Linked DNA regions of Homo sapiens: region 2 is linked to region 1. Evidence: fine-mapped expression QTL. A gene starts in region 1. The other region holds a variant in brackets. All regions are shown on one strand. Distances are between the middles of the regions. Region 1 holds the start of ADAP2 (ArfGAP with dual PH domains 2). Region 2 overlaps RNF135 (ring finger protein 135).

What was found. PIP is the estimated chance that this variant, and not a neighbour inherited with it, causes the effect.
Region 2: its variant is the best candidate, but not a certain one, in a credible set for the expression of ADAP2 in whole blood (TOPMed, PIP 0.56).

The regions. Positions count from the first base shown.
Region 1 is chr17:30,915,604-30,928,040 of GRCh38, forward strand. It overlaps ADAP2 (ArfGAP with dual PH domains 2), which reads left to right and starts at 6,342. Exons shown (of 11, transcript NM_018404.3): 1 at 6,342-6,505; 2 at 7,337-7,467; 3 at 11,224-11,315. The coding sequence starts at 6,412. RefSeq lists silencers at 6,083-6,522, 6,663-6,712, 6,873-7,032.
Region 2 is chr17:30,981,708-30,994,144 of GRCh38, forward strand. RNF135 (ring finger protein 135) reads left to right here. Exons shown (of 5, transcript NM_032322.4): 2 at 2,910-3,053; 3 at 6,237-6,399. Among named protein-coding and RNA genes, the nearest start is that of RNF135, 17 kb to the left of the region's middle. The variant G/C (reference allele first, on the strand shown) is at 6,468.

The DNA.
Region 1 (12,437 bases):
GAGCGAGATACAATGGCATGGAGTTGGATAGCTCTGTGTTCAAAGGATGTGGACAGATCACACACCAAGCACATCCCAGGGCCTTTGCCCAGGTTGTTCTCTTCCCCTAGGACACTCCTCTCTCAAATTGCTGCTGGTTGGCTTGACCCCTTCCTGCAGATCTTAAATGTTAGATCTGAGCTTAAATGTTACCTGCTCAGAGAGGACTTCCTTGACCTCTCTATTGAAATAGCAACTTTCATTCCTCTCTATCCCCTCACTTGTTTCTTTTTCTTTATAGCACGTATCACTCTTGCACTATATTGTATATTTGTTTCTCTGTTCATTTCCTGTCTCCCTAACTTGAAGGTAAGCTCCACAAAGGCAGCTATTTCCCCAGCTATGTGGCCATATCTCAGTACCCATAACAGTATCTGGCACATAGTAGGTGCCCCATAAATAATGAACGAATGAGCAAACCCTGAGGCAGTACTGCAGTGGGGAGTCCCTTTGAGATCTGAGTGGTTCCAGTTGCTGAAGACAAGGTGATATTAAACACACAAATATGTTGGTCAACTCAATCACATTATTTACTCTGCATGGCTCCTTATCAGCTGTTTCACTTGCCTTCAAAAGGAATTATTTGTTTCCTTCAAAAAGGAAAACACTTTGTGATCCCAAGTCCTCTCACTTTATTGATTATTATTTTTTACCGATCCTCATTTCTTTGTTTATTTAGCAAACATTTGTTGAAACCCTGCTATGTGGCATGCAGGTGCTAGGGATACAACAGAGAACACAACTGACCCTGTCCTCATGAAGCATAGAAGTGTGACAGACCAGTAAACCAGCAAGCAATTACAGTAGAGTAGTAGAATATAATGCTTGAAAATACAGTTTTTTGTTTTAGTCTGTTTTGTTTTTTGAGACAAAGTCTCACTCTGTTGCCCAGGCTGGAGTGCAGTGGTGTGATCTCGGCTCACTGCAACCTCTGTCTCCTGGGTTCAAGCGATTCTCCTGCCTCAGCCTCCCGAGTAGCTGGGATTACAGGCACACGCCACCATGCCCAGCTAATTTTCTTTGTATTTTTTTTTTTTTTAGTGGAGACCAGGGTTCGCCATGTTGGCCAGGCTGATCTCAAACTCCTGGCCTCAGGTGATCTGCCTGCCTCAAACTTATGCCTGTAATCCCAGCACTTTGGGAGGCTGAGGCAGGCAGACCACTTGAGGCCAGGAATTCGAGACCAGCCTGACCAACATGGTAAAACCTCATCTCTACTAAAAATACAAAAATTAGCTGGGCGTGGTGGCACATGCCTATAATCCCAGCTACTTGGGAGGCTGAGGAACAAGAATTGCTTGAACCTAGGAGGCAGAGGCTGCGGTGAACCAAGATCGTACCACTGCACTCCAGCCTGCGAGACGGACAGAGGCTGTCTCAAAAAAAAAAAAAAGAAGCATAATGTTAGGTTGAACTTTATGGCATTGCTATTGCCATTTTTGTAAGTCAGTTTCATGTGGTTCAACCTAATATATTGGTGAAAAGAGTCCAAGGCAGACTTGAATTCAAATCCCAGCTTCAGTATGCATGATTCAGTATACAACATCTCAGTTGTGTAACCTTGGACAAATGTACTTACCCTCTCTCTGAGCCACAGTAGTCTCATCTGTAAAATGGGCATAAACATAGTCTGTACCTCAGGGTTATGGCTAAGATTAAATGGAATAATGCATGTAAGGGGTCTGGTGCACTGCAATCCCAGAATAAATGGTGGCCATAATTGTGGGTGGTGGTTTTTTCTTTAGTTACTGTATTTTTCAAATTTCCTGTAATATAGCTTTTTTTAATTCTAAAGCTAATAAACATAATTATTTAATTTTTTTGTTTGTTTTTGTTTTTTGAGATGGAGTCTCATCCTGTCACCTAGGCTGGAGTGCAGTGGCACAATCTTGGTTCACTGCCACCTCCAGCTCCTGGGTTCAAGCAATTCTCCTGCCTCAGCCTCCCGAGTAGCTGGGATTACAGGCACCCACCACCACGCCTAGCTGATATTTGTATTTTTAGTAGAGACGGGGTTTCACCATGTTGGCCATGCTGGTATTGAACTCCTAACCTCAGGTGATCTGCCCGCCTCGGCTTCCCAAAGTGCTGGGATTACAGGTGTGAACCACTGTGCCCAGCCAATTATTTAATTTTCAAAGGAATTGTGTTCTATGCCCTGAAGATCTTGAGTGGGGACCTTGAGGCTGTTACTGGGAATGTGGTTGAGGGCTTTCTTCCAGCCCTGCTGCAGCTTGGCTTGGCTGGACAAACACAGTGACCTGAGAACAGGGCTAGATGTTTCTTCTTGGTGGGACCCTGGGAGCTTTATTTACAAAGGACATTCTGTCCCACAGCCCAAATTGCTCCCTCACTCCAGCATCTGCTGTATTGACTGAGCCCTTTAGAGAGGCTGCTTTGACCCATCCTGTCCCTCAAACTCTGGGTCACAGTGCTCAGTGTCCACCTTGGTCATGACAGCCTTTGGCATGGTCCTCTTCACTTAGAAGTAGCTTCTGGGTCCTGAGCACAGAAGCTGAGCTCAATTTTCATAATGTCCAGTATCCAGGAGTGGGCTACAGAGTTTTGTTTTATTTTTGAGACAGAGTCTTGCTTTGTTGCCCAGGCTGGAGGGCAGTGGCGTGATTGTGGCTCACTGCAACCGCTGCCTGCTGGACCCAAGCGATCGTTCCACCTCAGCCTACTGAGTAGCTGGGACTACAGGCATGTGCCACCATAGCCAGCTAATTTTGGTAATTTTTGTAGAGACAGGGTTTCACCGTGTTGCCCAGACCGGGGCTACAGTTTCTGTTTAGGTTGATGCAAAAGTTTTGGAAATAAATAGTGGAGGAAATATAGGGTACAGACTTTCAATTATAAGAAGAATTCTGGGGATCTAAGGTGCAGTATGGATGGGGATGGATGTGTTCATTAATGCGATTGTGGGAATCATTACACAATGTGCACATATGTCAAATCATGTACACATTGAATATATACAATCTTTCTTTGTCAATTAAATATTTGTTAAAATAGTGGGGATAATTGCACAACATTGTGAATATAATTGAATGCAATCGATGACATAGTATTGTACACTTAGAAATGATTAAGATGGGTGGGGCATGGTGGCTCATGCCTGTAATCACAAAGCTTTGGGAGACTGAGGCTGGAGGATTGTTTGAAGCCAGAAGTTGGAGTCCAGCTTGGGCAACAAAGCAAGCCTCTGTCTCTGTGAAAATAGAAAAATAAAAAAATTAGCCAGGTTTGGTAGTACGTTCCCATAGTCCCAGCTACTCAGGAGGCTGAAGCAGGAGGATCACTTGAGCCCAGGCATTCAAGGCTGCAGTGAGCTCTGATTGTACCACTGCACTCAAGCCTGAGTGACAAAGTGACCCCCTTGTCTCTAAAGAAAAAAATGGTTAAAATGGCAAATTTTGTGTTTAGATTTTATCACAATTTTTTAATTTATATATATTTTTCTTTTTTTTTTTTTTTTTTGTTTTTTTTTTGGAGCAACCTTATTAACCGAACCACAATTTAAGTAAAAAAAGAAAAAAAAAAGTCCAGAATGCACTAAAGGGAGGTTTCATGAAATCACCTGGGACTGACTGAGCCACAGTAGGAGATCTGGATTTAGGCCCTGTTCCGCTTCTTATTTGGCTCCATGACCTTGGGTAACTTAAATCCTCTGAGGCTCAGCTTTCTCTTCTGTAAAGTGGCCTGATGTGATGCTGCCCTCTGAGGGTGTCATGAAGCTAAAATATGATCAAATGTGTGACGCTCTTGTAAAAAAAACACTCAGTAATTGTTCATTAGCATTGTCCTACAACCACCACCACCAAAAAAAAAAAAAAAAAAAAAAAAAGAAAGAAACAAAGAAAAGAAAAAAGAAGGGAAAAGAAAAGAAAGCATTATAAACAAAATACCAGAGTACATTGTTTTGCTCTGAGGATGCCTGAAATGCCACATTAAGGCTGTTTGATGGGAACCTCCAGAAATAAGGAAGGGAAGAGGGGAAACTAAAGGAATCTCTCAATCTCTGGCTCCTCACTATGAATGAGATACTGTATGTTCTCTTGGATTGGCTATTTTTTTTCTTTTTCTTTTTCTTTTTTTTTTTAATTTTTTTTTTTTTTTTTTGAGACAGAGTCTCACTCTGTCGCCCAGGCTGGAGTGCAGTGGTGCGATCTCGGCTTACTGCAAACTCCGCCTCCTGGGTTCATGCCATTCTCCTGCCTCAGCCTCCCAAGTAACTGGGACTACAGGCGCCCACCACCACACCCAGCCATTTTTTTGTATTTTTAGTAGAGACGGGGTTTCACCGTGTTATCCAGGATGGTCTCGATCTCCTGACCTCGTGATCCGCCCCCCTCGGCCTCCCAAAGTGCTGGGATTACAGGCGTGAGCCACTGCGCCCGGCTTTTTTTAAAGTTTCTGAGATTCAACCAGAGCCTACTTAGAACTGGGTTGGCTTTTGTGGGACCTACAGGGAGGTGGCAGTGAGACCTAAGGTGTCAGAGAAGCAAAGGAGCACAGACTGGTGAAGGCTCGGGTGCCGAGGAAGCACCCCCAGCATCACAATTTTGTCCCAGTGTTGGGCAGAGGAGAAATGTCCTTAGCTTGTCTCCTCTTCTCCCTCTCTCCCTCTTTCCTTTGCCTTCATACCTTAAGTTGACTTTCCCATCTTTCTCCTGGGAGATTTATTTCTGTCCCTTTTTTCATCTAAAGCAACGGAAATGAATCATCTTTCAGCCGGTTTAATAAACAGCCCCATGCCCCCTGACCCCAGCTGACTCTCTCACTGGTTCCTCTGTGGCTGCTCCTGGGCTAGGCCTCACCCCCTCACAGGCAAGACCCCCTCATGGCTGGCTATTCTTGGTAATACTCTCCACCCTCCCTTCCTGCTCAGTCCTGGCAGCTTGACCTCCTCCACCCCAGGGATGACGGGAATCACACACAGCATTCCAAGCGACAATTCCACAAGCTGACCATAGGGGCAGGGGAAGCAAGGAGGCCACCATGTTTGGAGGGTTTCTTTGTGCCATTTCAATGACCCTATTAGTGGATCTTACGCTCTCCATTTAACAGTTGAGGGTTTGGAGGCTCAGAGAAGTGAAGGAACTTGCCCAGAGACAAACAGTTGGGAAATGTGGAAATGAAGGAGTCAACATTTAAAGCCTGAATTTCTGGATTCCTGAATTCATTCCATTACACCATATTGCTGTGCGTGTGTGTGCACGTGTGTGCTTGCGCCCGCATGTATGTTGAATGGGAGTGTGGGCAGGTCAGCTAGAACATCAGCTGCAATTCACCAGGATGGAAACCTGATTTTATCCTGAAGGTTAACACCTGTCTATCATATGCATATGGCTTAATGCATCTGTGTGCATTAAGGTATTAACCTACATAGAAGATGGCAAGTATGTACAGTATATATTTCACCAGGAGGCCCATGAGTCATTGCAGATGATGTCAAGGAGTAACGAAGATGATGTCAAGCAGTAACAAAGATGGGAGAGAGGGAAAGAGGAAATGAAATGCCCACATTTAAGACCACCTATACCCTGCCTTCACCTCGCGGTGATGGAACTTCACAGGTTAAAGTGCCTGGCTGTGTCCACCTTGGTGAAACCACACTTTTCTGGTGAACAAAATCATGCAACTATTAGTTGGACTTCTAAAAATGTGCAGGTATCATTTATAGGAGCAATATGGAATACAGACATAAAACTGCTGACGTCAAACTCCCTGGTGTGGACATGTGTATGTGTCTGCGGTCAGAGAGTGGAATTAACACAAGTATATAAATAACCGTGATGCAAGGTAGATAGAAAGTGCTCAGGTCCAAAACAAATAGACAGATACTACAAGAGTATTCTTGGAGACCCAGAGGCTGGAAAGATTACTCCAGGCAGGGTATCACAGAGGGCTTCCTGAGGAGGTGGCATTTGCATATAAATACGTCTCCAAATAGATGTAAGATCTTACATTAACAGAACGCTTTAACAGAAGTTAGATTCTGGTTAATTTTCCAAGAAGCGCTGAGATGCAGACATATGCCCTTGTTCCTCTTTCATAGACGCGGAAACTGAGACCCACAGAGGTTGAATAGGTTGTCCACAGTCTCGTAGCTACCAAGTGACAGGCCACGATTTGATCTCAGGCCAGTGTGTTAAACTCCAATTTGCGTGCTCCTGTCCCTCCCCGCGCGTCGGCGGAGCTCGGGGCCGGACTGGACCTGCCGAGGGAGGGGCGGACAGTCCTGACGGTGCGGGGCGGGGCTGGCGGCTGCCCAGGCCTGGCTGAGGCGCCGCGGCCGGGTCCCTCTCCACCTGCCGGGCGGAGCGCACGGGCCATGGGCTGAGCCCCGCTGAGCCCGCCGGGCCGGCCATGGGCGATCGCGAGCGCAACAAGAAGCGGCTGCTGGAGCTGCTGCGGGCGCCGGACACAGGCAACGCGCACTGCGCCGACTGCGGGGCGGCAGGTAAGGGCGCGGCGGCGCGGGCAGCGCGAGACCCCCGGCCGGACCCCAGGCCCACCCGACTCCTCCCCTCGGCCCCACCGGGTCCCGCCCTCGGCCCCCTGGACCCAGACGTGGCACCTGCGGGCCCCGACCCCTCCCACCCACACCGTGAACCTCTCACCCGAGCCCCGAGGGCCGTCTCCACCACACCCTGCCCCGGCCCCTACGAGCCCAGGCTCTGCTCCCCTCGCGGGACCAGATGCGCATCTTCCCACGTGCTTGGACCCGGACACGAGAGCCGGCAGCCTAGAGCCCTTCCAGTCCCGCTCTCTTCCCTGGCCAGGCACCCGACCGCCCGAGTCCGGGCTCTCGATGTCTGCGCACCCAGGCGCGCCCCACGCCCTCGGACTCAGACATCCCAGCCAGGGCTAAACGTCGGGCCCAGGCCGCCGACAGTCCTGTGCCCCCTGCCCGCTCCCAGACGCCCCCCGAAGGCCTCCCCAGCGCCCCACCTCGGGGACGCCGAGGGCCCCCTAACTCAGCCTCCCCACCTGCAGCTCCGCGCCGAGCCCCGCGGTGCGCCCCCCGCGCCCTCCTCTCGGTTCCTTCTGAGTCCCTTCACTTCCACGTCGCGCAGCCTCAGACTCTCTCCCCGGGCCCTGAACTGCCTCCAGGATCTTCACCCCGGTCGCCGCGCAGCGGCCGGTGGGCTAACCAGAAGGTGCCAGGCTGGCCGCTTAGTTCGCCTTAGGTGGGAGAAGGGGCGCCCCACCTGCCCCAGTGCCCCGAGCCCAGCCCTGGTTTCTTCACCGCGCTTTCCGCTCAGCTCCTCTCCTGCCTCATCCCCTGCAGATCCCGACTGGGCCTCTTACAAGCTGGGGATCTTCATCTGTCTCAACTGCTGCGGCGTCCACCGTAACTTCCCTGACATCAGCAGAGTTAAATCTGTGCGACTTGACTTCTGGGACGACAGTATTGTGGAGGTAGAAAGGCATGCCCGTGGAGAGCCATGGAACTGCGGGACTGGAGTAGAGGCAGCGGGCAGGGGGCTCCCATTCTACAGAGGGGGAAACTGAGAACCAGAGAGGGGCAAGTCTAGCTAGAGGAAACACAGCTTATAAGATGGCAGCTTAGACAGAGGCCGAGAGTTCAAATTCTGGCTCTATCATTTGCTTACTTTTTTTTTTTTTTTTTTGAGACGGAGTCTCGCTGTGTTGTCCAGGCTGGAGTGCAGTGGAGCAATCTTGGCTCACTGCAACCGCTGCCTCCCGGGTTCAAGTAATTCTCCTGCCTCAGCTTCTCAAGCAGCTGGGATTACAGGCGCCTGCCACCACACCCGGCTAATTTTTTTGTACTTAGTAGAGACGGGGTTTCACCATGTTGGTCACGCTGGTCTCGAACTCCTGACCTCAGGCGATCCACCACCTCAGCCTCCCAAAGTGCTGGGATTACAGGCCTGAACCATCCTGAACCGCTCCTGGCCATCATTTGCTTACCTATAAGCTGGGAGGCCCTGAGCTAGGTACTTTGACCTAGCTGTGGACCCTCAGTTTCCACATCTGTATTCAAGGGATACCACCACCATTTCTCTTTTTTTCTTTCTTCCTTTTTTTTTTTTTTTTTTTTTTTTGAGACGGAGTTTCACTCTTGTCGCCCAGGCTGGAGTGCAACGGCCAATCTCGGCTCACTGCAACCTCTGCCTCTTGGGTTCAAGCAATTCTCCTGCCTCAGCCTCCTGAGTAGCTGGGATTACAGGCACCCACCACCATGCCCCGCTAATTTTTGTATTAATTTTTAGCAGAGACGGGGTTTTGCCATGTTGGTCAGTCTGGTCTCGAACTCCTGACCTTGGGTAATCCACCCTCCTCGGCCTCCCAAAGTGCTGGGATTACAGGCGTGGGCCACTGTGCCTGGCCACTACCACCAATGTCACAGCACTGTTGTGAAGATGATTGTAGGCTCAGTCCAGACACAAAGAAAGCTGTCAGTTAACAGTTGCTGTTGTACGGGTGTGGTGGCTCACACCTATAATCCCAGCACTTTGGGGGGCTGAGGCTGGTGGATTGCTTGAGCCCAGAAGTTCAAGAGCAGCCTGGGCAACATGGTGAAACCCCGTCTTTACAAAAAATACAAAAATTAGCTGGGTGTGATGGCATGCGCCTGTCGTCCCAGATACTTCGGGGGCTGGGGTGGGAAGATCACCTGAGCCTGTGAGAGTGTGGCTGCAATGAGCTGAGATCGCACCACTGCACTCCAGCCAGGGTGAGAGTGAGACCCTACCTCAAAAAAAAAAAAAAAGTTGCTGTTATCATTAGTGAAGTCTTGGACTGGGGGAAGGGAAATAACCTGATTTGTGGTCTAAAGTCCTCCTTTCCCCCTAGGCAGAAAGAGGACCACTTTGCTCTCCTGCCCTCTGGGGGTGGAGGATACCCTCAGCCTGCATGGTAATTCCATTTTGGTCAGAAAACCTCCAGAGAGCAGGCAGTTCTGCACTGTGCGGGTTGGCTGAGGGTTTCCAGGACTATTGGGGAAGCAGGCTGACATTTACTGAATGCCTACTCTGTGCCAGGTACTGTGCTAGACAGCACCGGACTGGAGGCTTTAGTGTGACCTTACTAAGTGCTGGGTCTTGGGAGAGAACAATGAACAAGATAAGGTCCCTGGCCATACAGAGCTTACATTCTAGTGTGGGAGAAAGGCTGGAAACCAGTAAACCAGCACATAAACCTGAAGGATTTTATTTGCACCTTATAACTCCCATGTTATATTTTCTTTTTTGTTTTTTTTGTTTTTTTTTTTTTTGAGACGGAGTTTCACTCTTGTTGCCCAGGCTGGAGTGCAATGATGCGATCTTGGCTCACTGCAACCTCTGCCTCTGGGGTTCAAGCGATTCTTGTGCCTCAGCCTTCTGAGTAACTAGGATTACAGGCATGCACCACCATGCTCGGCTAATTTTGTATTTTTAGTAGAATTTTTACTAGAGACAGGGTTTCACCCTGTTGGTCAGGCTGGTCTCAAACTCCTGACCTTAGGTGATCCACCCGCCTCGGCCTCCCAAAGTGCTGGGATTACAGGCGTGAGCCACCGTGCCCAGCATTTTTTTTTTTTTTTTTTTTGAGATGCAGTCTCACTCTGTCACCCAGCCTGGAGTGCAGTGAGTGGCACGATCTCGGCTCACTGCAACCTCCACCTCCTGGATTCAAGCGATTCTCCTGCCTCAGTCTCCTGAGTAGCTGGGATTACAGGCGCCCGCCACCATGCCCGGCTAATTTTTTGTATTTTTAGTAGAGATGGGGTTTCGCCATGTTGGCCAGGCTGGTCTTGAACACCTGACCTGAGGTGATCCACCTGCCTTAGCCTCCCAAAGTGCTGGGATTACAGGTGTGAGCTACAGCGCCCAATCCTCTGTTATATTTCCTTCTTCTTCTTCCTCCTCCTCCTCTTCTTCTTCTTCCTTCTTCCTTCTTCTTCTTCTTCTTCTCTTTTCTTTTCTTTTCTTTTCTTTCTTTCTTTTTTTTTTTTGAGACGGAGTCTCACTCACTCTGTTGCCCAGGTTGGAGTGTAGTGGTGTGATCTTGGCTCACTGCAACCTCCTCCTCCTGGGTTCAAGCAATTCTTGTGCCTCAGCCTCCTGAGTAGCTAGGATTACAGGCGTGCACCACCATACCTGGCTAATTTATTTATTTATTTGAGAGAGAGTCTTGCTCTATTGCCTAGGCTTGAGGGCAGTGGCAAAATCTCGGCTCACTGCAACCTCTGCCTCCCGGGTTCAAGCAATTATCCTGCCTCACCTTTCTGTGTCCTGGCTAATTTTTGTATTTTTTTAGTAGAGACAAGGTTTCACCATGTTGGTCAGGCTGGTCTCAAACTGCTGACCTCAAGTGATCCCCAGCCTTGGCCTCCCACAGTGCTGGGATTACAGGTGTGAGCCACTGTGCCTGGCCATTTTCTTCATTTTTACGGGTGAGATTCCAAGGGTCACTCATCAAATAAATGGCAGTCAGGATCTGAATCCTGCTCTGTTGGGATCCAAAGCTGGCGACACAGCCTAGCGGCCCCTGCAGAGGAGAAGAGGAGCAATGCTCCTCTCCTGCAAAGGAGATGCCCAAGCGATGTGAATTGAAAACCTGGTGTTTCTTCCCACTTCTGCCCTCACCCTAGCTATGCCACTGCTGCCAGGGCCACTTTTGGTGCATCAGCCTCTGGGTCTCTTGGGTGCCAAAGGGCCCTACTAATCATCCTGACCTATGCACTCCATGAGGCGAGCACCCACTTCTTCCATCCTCCAGGTACATTTATCTCCTGCAGACTTTCAGGGCTGCTAGGGGTCCTGGCCATCTGTGGAAGGCATGATAGGAAGAATATGAGCTTTGGAGTCAGGTCTGGGTTCAAATCCCAGTTCTCCACTTATAGCTGTGTTTCCTTGAACAAGTAACCTAACCCGTCTGAGCCTCAGTTGACTCATCTGTAAAATGAGTACAGTGATATGAAAATGGCTGAGAGGACCCAGTGAGCTGATGTGTGAGCACTGTGGAGTCCTGTGCCCATATGAGGCATGGTTATATCTGCCCATGATTGTTACAGGCTGGGGCTTCCCAGCAGTATGGATGACCAAGCCCGGTGGGACATCTCCTTCTTGGAGGCAGTTTCTTCTGACTCAGCCTAAGTCAGTGGCCTCATAGTTTCATTTCACGTTTTTTCAAGTTCTAATATTACCTCAGGTTGCTGTTGTCTTGCAGTTTATGATCCACAATGGAAACCTCCGTGTGAAGGCCAAGTTCGAAGCCAGAGTCCCAGCTTTCTACTACATCCCCCAGGCCAACGACTGCCTGTGAGTGGGTGATTCCTTAGGGACTGGGTGAGGGGTCTGTCCTGGTTCCACCTCCTCCCCCTCTCCATCTTTGGTGTCTTCATCTGTGGTGGTCTCTTCTATGGGCCTGGTGCGCAGGTGGATCCAGGAAAGCACTGGATACCATCACAGAGAGCACATGGGAAGACTGGTATAAGCCTCTTTCTGCCTCTGTTGCTTGGGCGTGTCTCTTCCTTTCTCTGGGCCTCAGTTTCCACAGCTCTTAAATGGAGGATTTTTCTGTATGATCTCTATGATTTTTCTCTATGATCTCTGCCTGTGACATTCTTGTAGCTTACAGATGGTGGCTAACTTGATAAGAGGGGGTAAACACTAGTATCTTACTAGACCAAGTGTGTTTCAGCTACTTCCTTTAGAGAAATATGTCTAGAGCTGGCCAGGCACGGTGGCTCAGGCCTGTAATCCCAGCACTTTGGGAAGCCGAAGCGGGCAGATCACGAGGTCAGGGGATCGAGACCATTCTGGCTAACACGGTGAAAGCCTGTCTCTACTAAAAATACAAAAAAAATTTAGCCGGGCGTGGTGGCGGGCACTGGAGTCCCAGCTACTTGGAAGGCTGAGGCAGGAGAAGGGTGTGAACCCGGGAGGCAGAGCTTGCAGTGAGCCAAGATGGCGCCACTGCACTCCAGCCTGGGCAACACAGCGAGACTCCGGCTCAAAAAAAAAAAAAAATAAAAGATAGAAATATGTCTAGGGCTCTGCCACCTAAGCTCGGGCTGGCTCTAAACAACTTGCCTGAGCTGCAGATCCCTAAATACTAACCATAAAAATAAGAATAACAGCCAGGCACAATGGCCAGTGCCTGTAATCCTAGCACTTTGGGAGGCTGAGGTGGGAGGATCGCTTGAAGATAGGAGTTCAATGTCAGCCTGAGCAACATAGCAAGACCCTGTCTCTACAAAAAATAAAATAAAATGAACTTAGCCAGGGCATAGTAGCACGTGCCTGTAGTCTGAGCTACTAGGAAGACTGAAGTGGGTGGATTGCTTGAGCCCAGATTGCAGTGAGCTAGGATCACATGTGTCACTGCACTCTAGTATGAGTGACAGAGTGAGACCTAGCATTAGAAAAAAAAAAAAAGTA
Region 2 (12,437 bases), 66 kb after region 1:
CCAGGAATTTGAAAGGACTTGGGCGTTGTGATCTAAGCCGTATCTGCATTAGGGGGCACCCCAAGCCCAGTAAAGCTGTGACTCTTGCAGACTACTAGAGGTACCACCTTGGTGGTCTTGTATAAGATCCAGAAGAATTATCTGGATTACCAGGCAGAGATTCTTGTTCTCTTCTCATACGTTCTCCAAAACAGTCTGTCTGTGTGCTGAGCTGCCTGGAGCTGGAGGTGGGGTGACAGAAGCACCTTGTGGCCATGACCACTAGAACTGCACAGGGTCAGACCTAAAGCCAACACAGCACTGTGCCTTACCCAAGCCCCTTGTTAACCACTATCTGGCTACCACCTATATTGACTCAAGGACCTAGGGCTCTATAATCAGCAGATGGCAAAGCCAGCCAGGCTTGTGTCCTTCCCTTCATGGTGGCACATTCACCCAGGCTCGGGGCCGGTCCAGAGACCCATCTCAGCACTAGGACTTGCCTAGGAGTTGCAGTCCTTGTGGCCTAGACTGCCTTTCAAGTTTATTTAGAGCCCCAGAGCACTTCAGCCCACAGTGGAGAGGCTTGCCAGAACTCAGGTTCCAATAACTGGGGTGGGTGATTTGATTCCTCTCTGGCTAGGACTGATCTAAATGCTCCCTCTGTGGGTAGGCGTCAGCTGAATTCAGCCCAGTTTTGCTTTGTGAAGCGACAAGGCAAAGTCTTTCTATTCTCTTTATCACCATGCTCTCCCTTTCCTGAGTGCACAGATTCTCTGTGCATGTGGCCCCTGACACATGGGATATGGGTTGCATTGGCAATTCAAGACTGTTTCTCCTACCCTCTTCAGTGCCTGTTTCAGTAATATAAAGTTAAAACCAGGTACTGTAAGTACCCCTGATTTTTGGTTCTTATGAAGGTGCTTTTTTGTGTAGTTGTTAAATTTGGTGTTCTTGTGGGAGGGATGATCAATGGAGCCTTCTATTTGGCTATCTTGCTCTGCCCTCTCCACCCTTAAGTCTTCTGGCTTTCCCCCACTTCTCTCTGGCCCTAAACCATTTTTAAGTATACAGTTTGGTGATATGAAATACATTCACAATGTTTTGAAACCATCACTACCATCATTTCCATAACTTTAAAAAATTTTAAATTAACATGACTGGTTCTTCAGGGTACCATAACTCTTTTCAACTCGCAAAAGTGGAATTCTAGGAGGACATTAAAATTCTCCATTTCCTCTTCCCCCAGCCTCTGGCAACCATCATTCTAATTTCTGTCTCTGATTTTGACTACTCTAAATACCTCATATAAGTTGAATCATACAGTATCTGTCTTTTTGTGACTGGCTTATTTCACTTAGCATAATGTCTTCAAGGGTTATTTATGTTGTAGCATGTGTCAGAGTTCCCTTCCTTTTTAAGGCTGAGTAGTATTCTATTGTATGTATATGCCACTTTTTGCTTATTCATTCATTTGTCTGCAGATACTTGGGTTGCTTCCATGTTTTAGCTAGTGGGAATAATACTGCTATGGGCATGAGTTTATGAATCTCTTTGAGATCCTGTTTTCAATTCTTATATATCCGGAAGTGGAATTGCTAAATCATATGGTAATTCTAATTACATATATGTACATATATATATATATATATATATATATATATATATTTTTTTTTTTTTTTTTTGAGATGGAGTCTGGCCCTGTCGCCCAGGCTTGAATGCAGTGGCATGATCTTGGCTCACTGCAACCTCCATCTCCTGGGTTCAAGAGATTTTCTTGCTTCAGCCTCCCAAGTAGCTGGGATTATAGGTGCCTGCAACCACACCTGGTGAATTTTTGTATTTTTAGTAGAGATGGGGTTTCACCAGGTTGGCCAGGATGATCTCGAACTCTTGACCTCAGGTGATCCACCCGCCTCGGCCTCCCAAAGTGCTGGGATTACAGCCATGAGCTATTGCGCCTGGCCTATTTTTAATATTTTGAGCAGCCACCATTCTGTCTTCCATAGTGGCTATATCATTCCCACCAACAGTGCAGAGGGTTCCAATCTTCCCACACCATCAACATTTGTTATTTTGGTTTTTTTTTTTTTGATAGTAGCCAACCTAATGAGTGTGAGGTGGTATCTCACTGTATGTTTTGATTTGCATTTCCCTAGTGATTAGTGATCTTGAGTGTCTATTCATGTGCTTATTGGTGATTTGTATATCTTCTTTGGAGAAATAGCTATTCAAGTTCTTTGCCCATTTCAAAATTCAGTTGTTTGTGGGTTTTTGCTTGTTTGTTTTACCAACCAAACAAGCGGCAGTGATATGTTTTTATTGTTGAGTTTTAGAAATTCTCTGTATATTCTCAGTATTAATGCCTTATCAGATGTATGACTTGCAAATATTTTCTTCCATTTTTGTGGATTGCCTTTTTACTCTATTGTTCGTGTCTTTTGATGCACAAATGTTTAAACATTTCATGTAGTCCAATTTGTCTCCTTTTTTCTTTTGTTGCCTGTGCTTTTAGTGACATATACAATAAATCATTGCCAAATCCAATGTCATAAATTTTGCCCTATGTTTTCTTCTAACAGCTGTATTATTTTAGGTCTTACATTTAGGTCTTTGATCCATTTTGAGTTAGTTTTTGTATATGATGTTAGGTAAGGGTCCAGCCATATTCTTTTGCATATAGATATCCAGTTTTCACAGTACAATTTGTTGAAAAAACTGTCCTTTCTCCATTGAATGGTCTTGGCACCTTCGTCAAAAATCATTTAACTATATATGTGAGAGTTTATTTCTGGGTACTCTATTGTATTCCATCGGTCTGTATGTCTGTTTTTATGCCATTACCACAGTATTTATGATTCCCTCTGTCTAGTGGTGGTTCCTGGGTCCAGTTTTATAGAACCCAGGACCTGAACTTTGCTATTTTGAAGGTGGCAGTAGAGAAGAGCATCACAGAAGTTGCTCAGGAGCTGACAGAGCTGGTGGAACATCTTGTAGACATTGTCAGAAGCCTGCAGAATCAGAGGCCCCTATCAGAATCTGGACCAGACAACGAACTGAGCATCCTGGGCAAGGTAGGCTCCACTGGGAGAGGAAAGGATGTGGAAGGGAATAGGGCTAGGGATTGCTTTCAACTGGAACAACATGAACATATTTGAACCTGAAGGATACAATAAGTCTCAATCTTTTATTGTTCTCTTTACTACCAGACATGGATGATTGGACATTTGGAATGCTTGAGGTAAGGTTGGGAAGCTTCAGATGGGCTAGGATCACTCCACCTAACAAGCTGTCTCTAAGATCACCAGTGACCTCTGTGTATAACGTTCTGGTGCCTGTCTCTATAAGCGTTCTGGTGCCTGTCTTCATTGACCTTTCAGCAGCCTTTGACACTGTGGACCACACCTTCATTCTTAGCTTTTGGGACAGGAATCTTTTGGCTTTCCCCCACCTCTCTCTGGCTGATCCTTCTCAGTCTGTTTACAGGCTCTCTCTCCTCTGCTTAGGAATTAAATGCTGGAGTTCCTCAAGGCTGAGTTGTAGGTCCCTTTGTTTCCCCTGCAGGTAGTCTTCCCTGCATCCATGGCTTTAATGACCACCTCTATGCACAAATAATAGCTCCAGGCTGGAGCCTTCTCTGAGCACTAGGCTGCTATGTCTTCCTTCTCATCTTTTCTTCTTGGGTATCTCAAAGCATCACACTTAATGCGTCCTAAACTGCTCCTCTTCTGGGATTTCTCATCTCAATGCTTGCCCCATTATCTTTCCAAGTACAGAAGCCAGAGACCTGGAAATCATGTTACCTTCTTCTCCCTTACCCTAATATGCAGCATATTGTAGCTTTAAGACCTGCCTAATTACCTCTCAAATCTATTTACTTATTCTTGAGCTCCTTTGAGACTTGCTCTAATCCAAGCCTCTGATAATTTCATGTCTGGATTGCTGTCATAGTCTTCCAAATGCTCCACTCTCCCTCTTCTAGTCTGTTTTCCTCATGGTCATCACAGTGACTACCACAAACATCAATCTGAAAATGTAACTCATCTGCTTAAAACATTCAAATTACATCAGTTTGCTCAGGAGTAAGACCCAAATCCTCACAGGACCAGCAAAGCCCTGTAGGATCCCATCTCTGTCTGCCTCTCAAATCTCATCTCTGCTCATGCTGCCTGGCTCTGTGCGCTCTAGCTACACTGGCCGCACAGTCGCTCTAGTGTGTCTCACGTCTTCCCACTACAGGGCACCCTTCATGGAATGCTCTCCTTTCCCTCCATCACTTAGGTAATACTTGCTCATCCTTCAGATCCTAGCTAGAACGTCATTTCTTCAGAAAGAAGCCTTCAATGATTTCCTTGAACAAATCAAATCTCCCCATTAGAGGCTCTGAGGACTCCATGTACCTTTCATTTGTAGTGGTTATCACCATTGCACCTTTGTAATGTCTTGTGCCATACTCTATATTAATGTCTGCCCCCCTCCCTTTTCCTTCACTGGACTCTCAACTTCAGGAGGATAGGGACTTTTGATGCTTTTTTTTTTTTTGAGACAGAGTCTTGCTGGAGTGCAGTGGCGTGATCTCAGCTCATTGCAACCTCCGCCTCCTAGGTTCAAGTGATTCTCCTGCCTCAGCCTGCCGAGTAGCTGGGACTACAGGTGTCCGCCACCACTCCTGGCTAATTTTTGTATTTTTAGTAGAGACGGGGTTTCACCATACTGGCCAGTCTGGCCTCAAACTCCTGACCTTGTGATCCACCTGCCTCGGCCTCCCAAAGTGCTGGGATTACAGGCGTGCGCCACATTGCCTGGCTGATGCTTTTGTTCTTTTGTCCACCATTGTGTCCCCAGGCGCTAGCACAGTACCCAAGTACCCACTTACAGTAGGGGTTCAACAAATACCCACTGAATGTATGGATAAATCCATCTTTAGGGATGCGATGTGTTGGGATAGAAACGCTGAGAGTCTGACTTTCAGAATTGACATTGTCACTCACTAGTATTATGACCTTGGGCAAGTCATTTCATCTATCTGCGTCTCAGGTTCCTATCTGTAATATAGAAATAATGATACAGGGCCTGCCACATCATTGGTTTATTGTGAGGATTAAAAGAGGTATAAGAAAGTGCTTGAGCAATGTTAAAATGTGGGATGTTATAATTAACTGTGGCAATTTAGTTAACCTTCATGAATTTCATCTTCTTTTGTAAAACGGAGATTTTTTACAGGTTGATAAACCTACTTTGTGAGGTTGTTATGCAAATGAGAGAAAGGCAATATCTAGCATGTAGAAAACACTCAATAAGTGTAATACTACCGTATTTTGATTGGTGGAAAGAATGGGGAGTGGATTATGCAAAGGTGGGAAGGAAAGGGGTTGAAGTTGGTGAGCAGATAAAGGGCTGTATTGGGGAAGAACAGGACCTGAGGCTAAAGAAAATCAGGGAGCATGTGTTGAAGGCCCTAGAAAGCAGGACCTGGATGCAGGCAATTTGAGAGGGAGCTCTTGCGAAGTGAAATGATATAATGATAGAGGTGGGAAAAGGTTCCTTTTTTTTTTTTTGTGAAATGGAGTCTTGCTCTGTCGCCCAGGTTGTAGTGCAGTGGCATGATCTTCTCAGCTCAGTACAACCTCTACCTCCCGGGTTCAAGTGATTGTCCTGCCTCAGCCTCCCATGTAGTTGGGATTACAGGCACTTGCCATCATGCCTGGCTAATTTTTGTATTTTTAGTACAGACAGGGTTTCACCATGTTGGCCAGGCTGGTCTCGGATTCCTGACTTCAGGTGTTCTACCCTCCTCAGCCTTCCAAAGTGCTGGGATTACAGGTGTGAGCCACCACACCTAGCCGAAAAGGTTATTCTGACCTCCATGGTTTATCTCAGTAACTATCTGTAGTATTTATTTTATAAAGCCCCTATAAGATGCGCCTAGAAATGTTAAACTTTTTTGGTATTACCTAAGAAATCCATGTTTATTGTGCAAAATATTAGAAAGCACATAGCATTAAATAAAGCAAATTAAAGTGCTCCATAACTCCATCACCCAGAAATAACCACTCTTTGATATTTTTGCTGTACTATGTACAGCAAATTATTCCAGATTTTTTTCAAGGCATATTTTTTGAGGGCCTAATTTTGTTTTTAAAAACTTGCTGGGAATTAAATAGAAAATTATAGATGAATAGAAAAACTTGAATATAATAGTTGATAGACTGCATAGGGGACTTCCATTTATTCAGTTTTAAATGGTTTATCAATAGGCTTTTTCTTCTGGGGTGGATCTTTCCATGGCTTCTCCAAAGCTGGTGACTTCCGACACAGCTGCAGGGAAAATCAGAGATATTCTCCATGACCTAGAAGAAATTCAGGAAAAATTACAAGAAAGCGTCACCTGGAAAGAGGCTCCTGAAGCACAAATGCAGGGTGAGCTGATCTTATTTATTGGAGGAGGATTAAATATGGAAGTTGGGGGGAGTAGCAGAGTGCTCTAT[G/C]GCTTTGTTCTCTGGGGATAGGATCCCAGAGTCCAGCTGTATTACCACTGTGGTGTCGTGAATCAGGTAGGGGTGGGCTGAAGTGATTTTGTGGCTGAATATGTTTTTGGCAATGACTGAAGGTGTGATGTATCACAAGTCCTTAATAGATAGAAACTCATTTTTGAAGATCCATGCACACAGGTCCTTACTGATCAAGTGTGTTATCTTACTGCAGAGATTCTGAAATAGGCCACTTTTAATTTTTTTTTTTTTTTTTTTTTTTTTTTTTGTGATGGAGTCTCACTCTGTCGCCCAGGCTGGAGTGCAGTGGCACCATCTGGGCTCACTGCAAGCTCTGCCTCCTGGGTTCATGCCATTCTCCTGCCTCAGCCTCCCCAGTAGCTGGGACTACAGGTGCCCGCCACCATGCTGGCTAATTTTTTGTGTTTTTGATAGAGACGGGGTTTCACCATGTTAACGAGGATGGTCTCAATCTCCTGACCTTGTGATCTGCCCGCCTTGGCCTCCCAAAGTGTTGGGATTACAGGCGTGAGCCACCGTGCCTGGCCTTAAATTTTTAACTAGTAAATGTCTTCTTCTTTTTTTTTTTTTTAATAATTTTGTTTTGTTTTTGTTTTATTTTGAGACAGAGTCTCACTCCGTCACCCAGGCTGGAGTGCAGTGGTGCGATCTTGGCCAGAATTACAGGCGTGCGCCACCACGCCTGGCTAATTTTTGCGTTGGTTTTTTTTTTCTTTTCTTTCTTTCTTTTTTTTTTTTTTTTTTTTAAGTAGAGACAGAGTTTCACCATGTTGGACAGACTGGTCTCAAACTCCTGACTGCAAGGCTCACCTCAGCCTCCCAAAGTGTTGGGATTACAGGCGTGAGCCACTGCACCTGGCTGTAAATGTCTTTCTTAACAAAGCATATAGGCCAAGTGCAGTGGCTCACGCCTGTAATCCCAGTGCTTTGGGAGGCTGAGGTGAGAGGATCTCTTGAGGCCAGGAGTTCAAGACCAGCCTGGACTACAGAGAGAGATCCTGTCTCTACAAAAAATAAAAAGTAACCAGATGTGGTGGTGCACACCTGTAGTCCCAGCTACTCTGTAGGCTGAGGCTAGAGGATCACTTGAGCCACGGGTTCAAGGCTGAGTGATCATGCCACTGCATTGCATCCTGGGCAACAGAGGGAGATCTTGTCTACAAACAAAACCAGCATGCCACTTTGTAACTAGTTCTTGATACAGTCTATTAAAATATAATCTCTGGGGAGTGTGTTAATGTTAATATTAAACAGTACCATATAGAAAAGAACCTTTCTGTCCTGATCCTGTAGTTTCTCTGTTGTTCTTCCAGAGTTATTGAAAAATAACTAACACCTTCCTGTCAGACATTAGACGTTAGCTCTGTCTGGTCTCCCAGGGTTCTTCCTCCTGCTCTGGCCACTGCTATCTTCATATGCTTTAGAGGCATTTCTTCTGTAGCTTTTCCTCTTCTGATAGCTTTTATATCCTTTATATTTTCATATTTAAACAATCTTATGCTACTTAAAAAATCATTTCTGGCCAGTGCAGTGGCTTATGCCTGTAATCCCAGCACTTTGGGAGGCCGAGGCGTGTGGATCACCTGAGGTCAAGAGTTCAAGACCAGCCTGGTCAACCTGGCGAAACCCTGTCTCTATTAAAAACACAAAAATTAACTGGGCATGGTGGTGGGTGCCTATAATCCCAGCTACTCAGGAGGCAGAGGCACAAGAATCACTTGAACCTGGGAAGCAGAGGTTGCACCATTGCACTCCAGCCTGGGCAACAAGAGTGAAACTCTGTCTCAAAAAAAAAAAAAAAAAAAAAGAATCATTTCTTATGTAAGTGGAGAAGCATGATTCCTTGGAAAAAGTTTCTTTAGGAAAACAATTAGAGAGCAGTTTATTGTTCCAAAAATTATCTGAGAAAGAAGCACCTTTGTATTCTGTGTGCTTCTAAACTTAGGTTGGGTTCCTTAGTGATTTTATTTATACAAATTTAAGATCAATTTTTAAATTTTGGGGGGTTAAATTTAAAATTTCATATTCAAAAATCAAAACAGGGCTGGGCGCGGTGGCTCATGCCTGTAATCCCAGCACTTTGTGAGGCCAAGGAGGGTGGATCACCTGAGGTCAGGAGTTCGAGAGCAGCCTGGCCAACATGGTGAAACCCCGTCTCTACTAAAAATACAAAAAATTAGCCGGGCGTGGTGGCACACTCCAGTAGTGCCAGCTACTCCAGAGGCTTAGGCAGGAAAATTGCTTGAACCCGGGAGGCAGAGGTTGCAGTGAGCCACTGCACTCCAGTGTGGGTGATGAGCGAAACACCATCTCAAAACAAACAAACAAACAAACAAAAACAGTATAAAAAGGGCATACTGCCCAGTCTCTCTTCCATCCTTGCCAATTGCCCCATTCTCTCTTCTCAGTGCACCACTTTTATTACCGTTTTTTTGAGTGTCTGTTCAGAATTTATTTATGCAAATGTCAGCGAATATGAATTTATATTTTTATTTCTCCCAATCTTTTTTTAATACACAAAAGATAGCACATTATATACATTGTCCTGCATTTTGCTTTTGTCTTTTACTTTATACATCTTTATTTTATAGTACAGTAGTTAGGACATTTTTCCTTGCTTTTGTTAGTACCTAGGGCATTTTCTCTTACAGTTGCTCAGTATTCCAATATCTGGGTATGCCAACATTTATTTACTCCATCCTCTGCAGATGAATACGTGATTGTTTCCAATTGTTTACAATGACAAATAATGCTAAAATCAATAACTGTGTATGTACATTGTTTCATATGGGTGTAGATATATTTGTAGCTCAAATTGCCAGTGAAGGTTGCTGGGTCATAGGGTAAATTCATTTGTCATTTTGATATACATTGCCAAATCACCCTCCAGTTGGGTTATACCAGTCTTCACTCCCACAGAAGAAGTGTGTGTCCCCAACCTGCCAACTGAGTATGTTGTCAAACATTTGTCTTTTTTTTTAAACCAATCTCATGGGTCAAAATATTGATGTGAAATTAGCCAGTCTTGGTGGTGGGTGCCCGTAATCCCAGTTACGTGGGAGGTTGAGGCAGGTGAATTGCTTGAACCCGGGAGGCAGAGGTTGTAGTGAGCCAAGACCGTGCCATTGTCCTCCAGCCTGGGCAACAAGAATGAAACTCTGACTCAAGAAAATACATTGACGTGAGAGTATACTGCGCGTTTTTTTTCTCTTTCTCTTTCTTTTTTTTTTTTTTTGAGACTGAGTCTCGCTCTTGTTGTCCAGGTTGGAGTGCAGTGGCCCGATCTCGGCACACTGCAATCTCCGTCTCCCAGGTTCAAGTGATTCTCCTGCCTCAGCCTCCTGAGTAGTTGGGATTACAGGCACCTGCCACCAGGCCTCACTAATTTTTGTACTTTTAGAGATGGGGTTTCACCATGTTGGTCAGGCTGGTCTCAGACTCCTGACCTCAGGTGATCTGCTTGCCTCGGTCTCCCAAAGTGCTGGGATTACAGGGGTGAGCCACCGTGCCCGGCCTATACTACACTTTTAATTTGTGTTTCTCCATGAATTGTCTTTCATATCTTGTGTTATTGGTCTTTTAAAAATTGACATTTAGGAGCTCTTTGTAAATTAAAGAGATTAAACTTTTGTCTGTTATATGAATTGCAAATTTTGTTCCTTAATATGTCATTTGTCTTTTTATTTATCTTTTATGGGTTTTATAATGCCATATAGACATTTTTAAATTTATGTAATTTTTTTTTTTTTTTGAGAAGCAGTTTCGTTCTTGTTGCCCAGGCTGGAGTACAAAGGTGTGATCTGGCTCACTGTAATATCTGTCTCCTGGGTTCAAGTGATTCTCCTGCCTCAGCCTCCCAAGTAGCTGGGATTACAAGCCTGTGCCACCACACCTGGCTAATTTTTGTATTTTTAGCAGAGACAGGGTTTCCCCATGTTGGTCAGGCTGGTCTCAAACTCTTGACCTCAGGTGATCCACCTGCCTTGGCTTCCCAATCTGCTGGGATTACACAGGAGTAAGCCACTGCGCTCGGCCTTTACATAATTTTTTATAGAGATGAAATCTCACTGTTTTGCCCAGGCTGGTCTCAAACTCTTAGGCTCAAGCAATCCTTCTGTCTCTGCCTGCCAAATTGCTGGGATTACAGGTGTGAACCACCATGTCTGGCCTCAATTTTTTTTTTTTTTTTTAGAGACAATAGACAGAGTCTTGTTCTGTTGCCTAGACTGGTTGACTAGAGTGCTGTGGCAATTCCTGGTCTCTAAATGTTTCTTTTTTATTTTTTGAGACAAGGTCTTACTTTGTTTCCCAGGGTGGAGTGCAGTGGTGCGATCATGGCTCACCCCAGCCTTGACCTCCCAGGCTCAAGTGATCCTCCCTCCTTAGCCTCCTGAGTAGCTGGGACTGCAGGTGCGTGTCACCGCACCTGGCTAATTCTTGTATTTTTGGGTAGAGACAGAGTTTTGCTATGTTTCCTAGGCTGGCCTGGAACTCCTGGGCTCCAGCAATTAGTTCACCTTAGCTGCTTGAGTAGGTGGGACTGCAAGGTGGCGCTACCACACTCAGTTAATTTTTTGTTTATTTTTTTTGTGGAGAAGAGGTCTTGCTTCTATTTTCATGTAGTAAATTTTGTTCATTTTTTCTTTTATGCATTGTAGATTTTAAGTTTTAGTTAGAAAACTCAACCCCCTGAAGTTTAGAAAGGAATTTTCTCAGGTATATGTGTGTGTTTGTACTTACACAGTTTACATTTAAATCTTTGGTTTCATGTTTTACATTTAAATCTTTGACTCACTTCAAGTATATCTCAGCATGTATCCTAGTGCATTTTGTTTTATTTGTTTATTATTATTATTATTATTATTATTATTATTAATTTTGAGACAGAGTCTCACTCTGTTGCCCAGGCTGGAGTGCAGTGGCGCGATCTCGGCTCACCACAACCTCCGCCTCCCGGGTTCAAGCAATTCTCCTGCCTCAGCCTCCTGAGTAGCTGGGATTATAGGCTCCCGACACCACATCTGGATACTTTTTGTATTTTTAGTAGAGATGGGGTTTCGCCATGTTGGCCGGGCTGGTCTTGAACTCCTGACCTCAGGTGATCTGCCTGCCTTTGCCTGCCTTGGCATCCCAAAGTGCTGGGATTACAGGCATGAGCCACAGCACTTGGCCTTATTTATTTTTTAAATAGAGACAGGGATGTCACTTTATTGCCCAGGCTGGTGTTGATCTCCTAGCTTCCAGCAATCCTTGTGCTTTGGCTCCCAAAGTGCTGGGATTACAGGCATGAGCCACCATACCGAGCCCCTAGTGAATTTTAAGTAAGATTTGTGTAGTGCCACTTTAGAGACATATCTCATAGCATTTTCATGTTTAATGATATTGCTCTGCTTAAAATGTTGCTCTTAACTGGAGAACCATGATTCTTTGGAAAAAATTTCCATGGTTAAGTGTAGATTATTTCTCTCATCAATAGAGATAAAAAAAGTATTAGGGAGTGTTAATTTAAAAAAAAAAAGTAAATAACTTCAGTAGGTTTTGCAAATGCTTTTTAAAAAATTTTTTTCCTTTCTTTTTCTTTTGTTTATAATCTGCATTCTGCTGAATTAATTAATTAATTAATTTTTTTATTTTGACACAGGTTCTCTGTTGCCCAGGCTGGAGTGCAGTGGCACAATCACTGCAGCCTCGATCTCTCAGGCTCAGGTGATCTTCCTTCCTAAGACTCCCAAGTAGCTGGGACTACAGGCATGTGCCACCACACTCAGCTAATTTTTTGTACTTTTTGTAGAGATGAGGTTTTGCCATGTTGCCCAGGCTGGTCTCCCACTCTTGGGCTCAAGCGATCCTCCTGCCTCAACCTCCCAAAGTTGTTGGATTACAGGCGTGAGCCACGGTGCCCAGCCAAACATTTTTTAAAAACCTATTAACAATAAGTAATAATCG